Linked DNA regions of Homo sapiens: region 2 is linked to region 1. The links come from fine-mapping of genetic effects on gene expression. A gene starts in region 1. The other region holds a variant in brackets. All regions are shown on one strand. Distances are from middle to middle.

Region 1 (4,398 bases):
AGAAAGGCATTATTTTCCAGATAAGCTCACTGTCGGTTGATGCTGTGTGTCAACACTGTGGGTGACCCAGTCTGGGAATAGACTAAAATGAGGCCCTTCCAGCCCTGAGGGCTATGGCTGATAGGGAAGGGAAATAAATACACGGTGATCCCATTGGCCACGTAAGTCCTTTCTTCAGAGGCACCGTTGAGGTAGAGGACTAAAGAATTGCTTAGGAAGAAAACAGAATGTAACACCAAAGTTAACTGCCACAGCGATTCTTTGTCTCTAAATGTACAGTTCTTTCCTCTTTTTTTTTTTTTTTTTTTTTTTTTTTTGAGAGGAGTCTCGCTCTGTCGCCCAGGCCGGACTGCGGACTGCAGTGGCGCAATCTCGGCTCACTGCAAGCTCCGCTTCCCGGGTTCACGCCATTCTCCTGCCTCAGCCTCCCGAGTAGCTGGGACTACAGGCGCCCGCCACCGCGCCCGGCTAATTTTTTGTATTTTTAGTAGAGACGGGGTTTCACCGTGTTAGCCAGGATGGTCTCGATCTCTTGACCTCATGATCCACCCGCCTCGGCCTCCCAAAGTGCTGAGATTACAGGCGTGAGCCACCGCGCCCGGCCAGTTCTTTCCTCTTGACCAAGCAAAACACAACTCCAGTATTTGATTTCTGCAATGAAACTTGGGCATTTTATGGCAATTGTAGCATCTTTTAAAACCACAAAATGGGCATTTTCCCCCTAAATAGCTTCTTAATCCATTTTTAGGAGTCATCCCCTAATATTTGTCACCATTATTCTTGGTACTAGGAAACAAAAATTATTCAAGGGGCTTGCAATCTAGAGTGGGGTGGAGTGTAAACAGAAGCTCCTAGACAGGGAAATGGAGGCTTCAACCAGAGACAATCACAGTGTTACAGAGCACAGCAGGGGGAACCAAGGTGAGGGGGGTGAGCAGTGAGGGGACGAGGTTGCCCACAGAAAAGAACTTCTATTAAACAACAGCTCATAAATAAGTTATCACTTCAAATGTTTAATAAAAACCACTACTAACTCCTAATATTAAAAAGTTTTAGGTATAACCACTATAATTTGTCTCTAACATCTCTAAAAAGCTATTCCCCCTCAAAATGTTGACAAATACTGTCTTTTATTCCCAGTCTGAAGTGTGAATAATATTTGATCTCTGTGCTCAAGCCATTAGCAATATGTGACTCCCACTGGCTTGGGTGACCTAAAAACTGAAATTAGATCCTAGAAACAAACTTTCTCCCCTCTAAACATGCATCCACAGCTCATTTTTTTTTGCATCTATATTTTTGAAAACCGGGACAATGAAGAAATGAGTACGGTGTTGGAGAAAAGATAAAGTCGGTGTAGTTCTGCATTAAACCAGCTTTCAAGGGTAGAATTTGTGATCATTGAATCTGTGATTATCAGAGCAAACAGAATTGTGCTTTCACAAAGCCAAGTTAAAAAAGAAGCCCACTGGTATTTTTACTTTGAGCAGATTATTCAATCTATTCGGCCATTTGTACCACACACCCATGTACACCACTCTCTCTCTCTCTAAGAGATTGATACATGAAATAGCATTGCTATAAAGAAGACAGCAACCAAGAGTCATCTGTATTGTATACAATGTTGTGAAATCATTAATGCATCCTGTAAGTTTCTATCCAAGTATTGTAGCGTTGTTTACACTGGACAAGAGACCAATGTTTAATAAACCAGAAACACTCCACTCCACAAAGTAAGAGTTAAAGGGAAGAGGGAATGGATTTGCAGAGACAAGTATAAGTTACTTACCTGTGAATATGAATTTGAGGAAGCCAGAGGAAATAATGGACTCCACTGTGGAGAGTTAAAAGGTTTCACAACCTTTTCCAACCTCGGTTTTCATCATTCTAAAGCACTGAACAGAATTCAAACTTTTTCAAGAACATTATCTATTTGCCTAAGGATCAATGTCCCTAAGGGCAGCCCAAGCACAGTTCAGTGACATACGAGAAACATACTCAGAGCAATAACCCCAAACACAGAGTGTGCTTGGGAAACCCTCTGAGGGTGTCAACAGGCCTTGGAAATTGCTGATTCACCTTGGAACGAGAGGCAAATTGAGCAGAGTGGGCCCAGCAAGAGCCCTGGAATTCAGGCTATCCCAACCCTTATTTTTTACAGGCCTGTAGTTGTGAAAAGTTACTTAAAAACATAACAAGACAAAAAAAAAAAATACCTTTAAACTTTCCCCCTCAATATAAAAGATTGCTCTTGGAAAATCCCTGGTTGCAGGATCCAGATGCTCCTGGCCCAGCTATAGAGTTTTGTGGAGACAAATACCCTAAAAGAACATTTGAAACAGCCTTGCTCAAAAGTCTGAGTGCACAGACAACTCTTGCACCCTGGCATGGACACACCAGATGAAGCTCTGTATAAGCAAAGATGAACGATTTTCTAAAGGTTCAAATGAACAGGTCTTGAGTCAAATAAGCATGTGGAGCTCCTCCAATATATTTGTGCTGCCTCTTCCTCTCCCTTCTTGTGAATCTTTCCATTTTTCCTACAATGTTCTTATTTTTTCTCCTTTGCCTGAGCTTACTTTTCCCTAAATGCCTCTCACTCCAGCCTTCAGCAATGAATAATAATAGGCAACATTGGTCAAGACTTGGTTGGGTGCCTGGCCCACTTCAAAAATGTTATTTGTATCACCTCATTTGGGCCTCTCAACAGCCCTAGGAGTTGGGTGCTATCATGTCATTTCTATTTTATAGTTGGGGAAACTGAAGCACAGAGAGGTTAAATAATCCTCCTAAGGTGTAACAACTAGTAGATGTGAAGCCACATGCCAGTCTGTGCTAACCTTCTTCCACTCTGTGCTCTGAAATGCAATTGATGGGCCAGTGCTTCTTAATTTGCAGAAATTAAACTGTAAGATCAAATTTTCTCAATTTTAGGTTTCTCTGTCATAAATTTTTTATTAAAATTCAGCATCCACCATTTTTTCTCTATTGGAATTTATGTATAAGATGGTTTATGACTTAGCCCATAAAACCCAAAATTATAACATATAATTTTATATGTTATTATATGTTCAAATCTCAAATATATCAAGGTCAGCAAAGAAAAGCAAGATTTCTAGATGTTTCCTCTATGCAAACTGAATGGGTTGACTTCTGAGTTGACGCAAATGTAGTAATATTGGATTTGGCACCAATTAGGACCCAGGAAAAAAATTTTGCTTCACACAAAACCAAAAAGGCAACACAGCTATGGGGCTGTAGCTTTGATTGGGAAAAGATTCCCAATAGAATTTTGCTACCTTTGCTGTGCTGAAGTTATTGACAGCAGTCAAAGGGTAAAAATGCCAAGAGAAATTTGTCAACTCAGGACTATAGCTGATCTGCTCACAGGTCCAAGGGTCCTAAGACTTTCCTTCTGGTGCCATGAAGATCCAAGGGAAGATAAAAGCATAGAGTTTTAGAGCTAGAAACAACATTGTAAATATTGATATATCATCCAACAACTTCATCTTATAGATGAGAAAAGTGAAGACAGAGTGGCCATCTGTCCAGGGCCCTGGAGAGTTCAGGGTGTCTTCCTCTGCACCCTCATGCTGGCCAGACACATCTGGGCAGTGTGAGTACTGAGTTGATCGTGCTTAATTCACTTCAGCTATAAGCTTGTCTTCTTTATGGTTCACGGTCTGAAAATAGGTAGGGTTGTGGTCCCTACAGTCACCCAATTAAAATACCGGCTCTTTTTGAATGTTTATGTGCCAAACACTGTTCTCAGTTCTGGGATTCAGGAATGAATAAGACAGACGAGAATCTCTGCCTCAGGAATCTTACATTCTGGGGGCAGGGAGGGGGCAGTATAGAGAGGAGACAAAGAAGTAACACATACAATACATCAGATGGTGTAAATGGTATGGAGAAAAGCATTGCAGGAAAGGGATATGATAGGGAGTGTGTGTACGTATGCTGTGTGAGAGAGAGAGTGTGTTTGTGTATGTGTGTGTGTCAGTTAGCGTGTGAGGGGAGAAGGATGTTGCCATTTTTAACTGGGTTTTATGGAAGGGCCCACTGAGATGGTGACATATGAGGAATGACCTGAGGGAGGTAAAGGAACAAGTACATGGGTATCTGGGGAAACCACATGGGCAAAGCTCTGGGCAGGAGCATGCCTGGTGTATGTAAGGAAGCTGAACCTGGAGTGGAGTAAGCAAGACTGAAGTCAGCTGGGGATTATGTCAGTGTGGCGGGAATCATGGAGTGCCATGAGCTCACAGGGCAGTGGCTCTGAAAGTGTGACTACTGGACCAGCAGCAGCCTCCTCATTACCCAGTAGGAATGTATGTTCTTGGTCCTTTCCTGAGACCTACTGAATCAGAAACTCTGGGAGTGGGGCCCAATGAGCTG
Region 2 (4,398 bases), 36 kb after region 1:
CATCCTTGCCTTTGTTTTGCCCACACCTTCTATCTGCAAGTAACCCATATTAAAAACAGAGTGCATACCCTTTCATATTTTTCTCCATATTCACATAGGTATCTTTACATATGTACACAGAGTTTGCTTTACAAAAATGAGGTCATGGAAAGCCTTCCAAGTCAAATAGTAGAGCTCGAGTTTGTTCTATTTAGTGGCTGCAAAATAATATTCCACTGTGCATATGTACCACAATTTATTCAGTTATCTCACTACTAGTGGGCACTTGCTTTGCTCCCAGTTCTTTTTGCCCCATCCTGTTCATATACACTTATATACATTTATATAGGATAGAATCCTAGGAGCAGGATTTTTGTCTCAAATAGTAGCTTTTTATTTTAACAGATTTTTTTTCTGGACAGCTTTCAAAAAAGGCTGTAGCAATTCACATATCCATCAGCAAAGGATAAGATCGCCCTTTCCCCCACAATCTTAAATAGTCTCAAGGAGCCAGCAAGAATCAGGGGTTCTCCAAGGAGAGGGGAAAGTCTATGAGATTCCTTACTCAGCAATAAATGAGCTAACAGTGAATTATTCCTCAATAGAAAGGCCCCTTTCTATTCATCTTTGGATCTTTTTAGCCAAATAGGCCTCACACAGAACCAAAGCCCAGAACAACCCAAAACAGGGTCTGAAGTCCAGAACAACCCAAAACAAAGTCCAGAACAAGCCAAACAGGATCTGAAGACAGTTGTCTCTAACTCACTCCTCCCCACTTCATGAATCCCCGTGAGTTCTTTCCCACTGGATAGTACTTGCATATTACACAATCAGCTGCATCTAGCATCTGCTCTTAATTTCATTTGATATTTTATCATCTCAGTTAAGATTCTGGGAAAAAGAAGTTGCCTTCTTTTTGAAAGGGATTGAAAGAAACTAGGAAACTTGGCAGGAAGATCATTCTTAAGCCAGGAAAAAAATTTTTAATGCTCACATGTGAACATGTGATGGTCATACCAGAAGGAGCACCCACCTCCCTCCCTCTGTGACAGACACATTTTCTTAGCCTTCACCTTTCCTTCTTTCAAGTTGCTGAAAATCCACAGTGTTTCTGTTCATTTGTTACTTTCATTCTCACCTATCTTCTCTCTTGCTCCATCTACCAGAACAATAATTCCCCATATAATACTTCTCACTTCACTTTTCAACGCAGGACCTCTTGTTGGGTAAGCTAAAAGGATATGTGCTCTGTAAATAAGAAAAATCTTTATTCAAAGAATCTATCAAATGTTCCCATGACTCCATCTCTATTTGTATATCTAAAGATTGCATAGTAGAGAAAAACAAAAGATTAGCCCTGCTTCATCTTACAGCTGGGAGAGTCATGAAAGGCCAAATGGGTAACAAAGCTCCTGGTTTTGACCAAGCCTAGCCAAAGAAGCTACTCAAATGTCAAAGGCATTGTTTGTATAAAAAGGGAACCAAAGTACAGGTTCCCTTTACAGTAGAAATAAGAGAACTCCCTGTTGACAAAGGGAGGAGGAAGAAAATATAAAGTACACTTTTAAAACATGAAGTCTTCATAGCAGCTTATAGTCGTTCAGAGAAACATGTTCCACTGAGAATGACTTGAGAGAGAGGATTACATCATTATGCCAGAAGGAAGAAGCCACTGTGCATGCTCTATCACCAGCCTCACCCTCCTGGTCAGCCTTACAAGAGTGACACTGGATATACTCCAGAAGTTGGACCCACCACAGCCTGCACACTGGAGTAAGTGCTTTCCTCCAGTTGAAGCTCATCTTAGAATGATCTGTGACTTAGACCATCCCCAGAATGGTGTAGTTGCAGGAAGCCTAACGTATGTCTCCTGAGACAGCCTCAGATCTGAGTTTCCTCCTTATGTTTTGGTATTTGGAAAG[G/A]GGTGGAGAAGATACTCTTGGGTAGAAGTATGGGAGGCATACAGATTCAGAAGAAAAAGGATAACTCTATCTTTAGTGTGTTGTCTGTGGTGGCATCTAGCCTTACCACTGTATACTTACATTCCACCTACAAACATTAAAATAAAATGCACAGTGCACTCCTTTGTTTTAAAAAGGAACTAGGAAAAAACTCAAATGGCAATTTGGTTCCAGATTTTTTTTTTAATGTGATCTTTGATCTGAAGTCAATGTAGGATGAGTTCTGAACAAAGTAGCACTTTCAAAGGTTGTATATTAAAGAGGTGAAATGAAAGACAACTTGGCACTTGAGATATGAATTTGAATGTGTATATGGTTACAGTCTGGATAAGACACTGCTAACATGACTTCATTAACTGATCGCCTATGTGGGACCATTGGACAAGGAGAGGGGGTGTTCTGGCTGTGGTGCCATATACTGAAACTGAACCCATGAGTTGGGCCCACAGGAATTGAGGGACAAGCCAGATAGATGGCAAGAATTCTAATTTCCAATATGCAAATCAGTCTAAACATTTGACTTTTTTTAAGTCTATTTGGAAAGTTTTTGAAACACGGCTGCACTAGGCGAGTTCATTAAGTAGCAAAATTTTAACTATTGTTATAACTTTTTCTTTGCCCTTTTCAGTTAACACTGCATGACCACCCAGGTGCATGAGGCTCTCTTCTCCTCTTAGTGACAATAACAGGCTCACAGGAAGGGTTCAGTATTAATTATTTATACCTTACTTCATGTGGCTCTAAGTCAATGTATTGTCTATGAGGTTTTATATTTAAGCCATACTTATGAAATGCTAAAGAGGAAAAAGCATATTTAGCACATTTGGGGCACCCTAAATGTGAACCTGAGTAAATTTCAGTTTGTTTGTTTGTTTGTTTTTGTTTGTTTTGAGACGGAGTCTCACGCTGTTACCCAGGCTGGAGGGCAATGGCGCGATCTTGGCTCACACGCAACTTGGCCTCCCAGATTCAAGAGATTCTGTCTTAGCTTACCAAGTTGCTGGGATTACAGGTGCCCACCACCATGCCTGGCTAATTTTTTGTATTTTTAGTAGAGATGGGGTTTCACGATGTTGGCCAGGCTAGTCTCAAACTTCTGACCTCAAGTGATCCGCCCGCTTTGGCCTCCCAAAGTGGGTTTGTTGTTCTTTTAAAGAAAAAAGACCACTACTTATTTTAAAGGGTGATAGCAGTGTCCTGACTCTACCTAGACAGATATGTTCATTCATGTGCTCATTCCAGTTGAACCATAATAACTGCAATTTTCAAAGGAGGAATACAGAGTCTGGGAAATCAGAAGAGTATAGCAACAAACTGGTATACGAGGAAACTGAAAATGAAAAATCAGCAAAGTGGTATTTGTACCTGCCTGAGTGGCTACAGTGGTGAAGGTGAAGGGTGGCAGGCTAGATTAGCACCATCTCCTCCCCTCCTCGCCTGCGGCCTCAGTACTTTCCACTGTGGTCCCAGGATACGCCAGGTCAACTGTGATCAACTCTGACACAGACAAACTCTGGGAGGGGAGGAGGCATCCTTTCCTATTCTCAGCGGTCTCAGTTCCAGAGACCACTTTAGTAAGCTCTCCTTGTCATACCTTAAAACATAAATTAAGACCCATAAGTAATTCCAAAACCTCATTTTATTATGTTGTTTTTATCTCCTTGCTCGCCCATCTTAAAAAAAATGGTAACACCAATCTCAGAGACTGATTTCTCCTACTTATTCTCTTAGGAGGGAAGGAGTGTTAAATAAGCCAAGGCATGCTAACAGGAAGGAAAAAATGGAGATTATGAAGAATAATCACAATTTGAAAACTATTAAAACCACGCACCAGGCAGTTTACAAAATATTTATTTCTTTGTTATATTATTTCTGCTGCTGAATTTGGTCAAGAGATTGTACTAATCATAAAATGAATGTTATTGATCATTTTAAAGTCTCTTCTAAAAGTAGCTAAATTTATACTGCTGATTCCTTTTGAAACATGCGACCTACAGCTTCTTGGCTTTTATGAGCTATTCAAGAGATATTTAGTCATCACGTTGTGTCACAATGGGAGTGACTCACAGAGCAAGGAGAGAACCTGAGGATTCCTCACACATGTAGTACTCAGAGCTCTACGGAAACCCAGGCACCTCGACCTCAAGAGGATCAGCCTGGCCAGGGTGGCACAACTCTTCCTTCCCCGTGCACAGCAGGAAAGCTGCCATCAGCTGAGCAAGTCCACCAACAGTTTCTGTGTCCCACTTCATCTTTAATAAGGTAACTGATGACAGTTTTGTCATTTATTCTTTTATTTATCAAGTCAATCTAAACTTTCTTTGATTTTCCTCACTCTTGCAGAATGAATCGGTGGTCTTTCAAGCTGTGGTCAATGTTGCTACTTCTTTTAATGTAACACATTAGAACCCAGTGATGGGAGCTGGGTCCATCTCACCATAGAAATGACCTCGGTGTG

The links. PIP is the estimated chance that this variant, and not a neighbour inherited with it, causes the effect.
Region 2: its variant is the best candidate, but not a certain one, in a credible set for the expression of ABCB11 in nasal epithelium (TOPMed, PIP 0.69).

The regions. Positions count from the first base shown.
Region 1 is chr2:169,029,436-169,033,833 of GRCh38, forward strand. It overlaps ABCB11 (ATP binding cassette subfamily B member 11), which reads right to left and starts at 1,889. Exons shown (of 28, transcript NM_003742.4): 1 at 1,790-1,889.
Region 2 is chr2:169,065,516-169,069,913 of GRCh38, forward strand. DHRS9 (dehydrogenase/reductase 9) reads left to right here and starts at 4,048. Exons shown (of 5, transcript NM_001376924.1): 1 at 4,048-4,202. The variant G/A (reference allele first, on the strand shown) is at 1,902.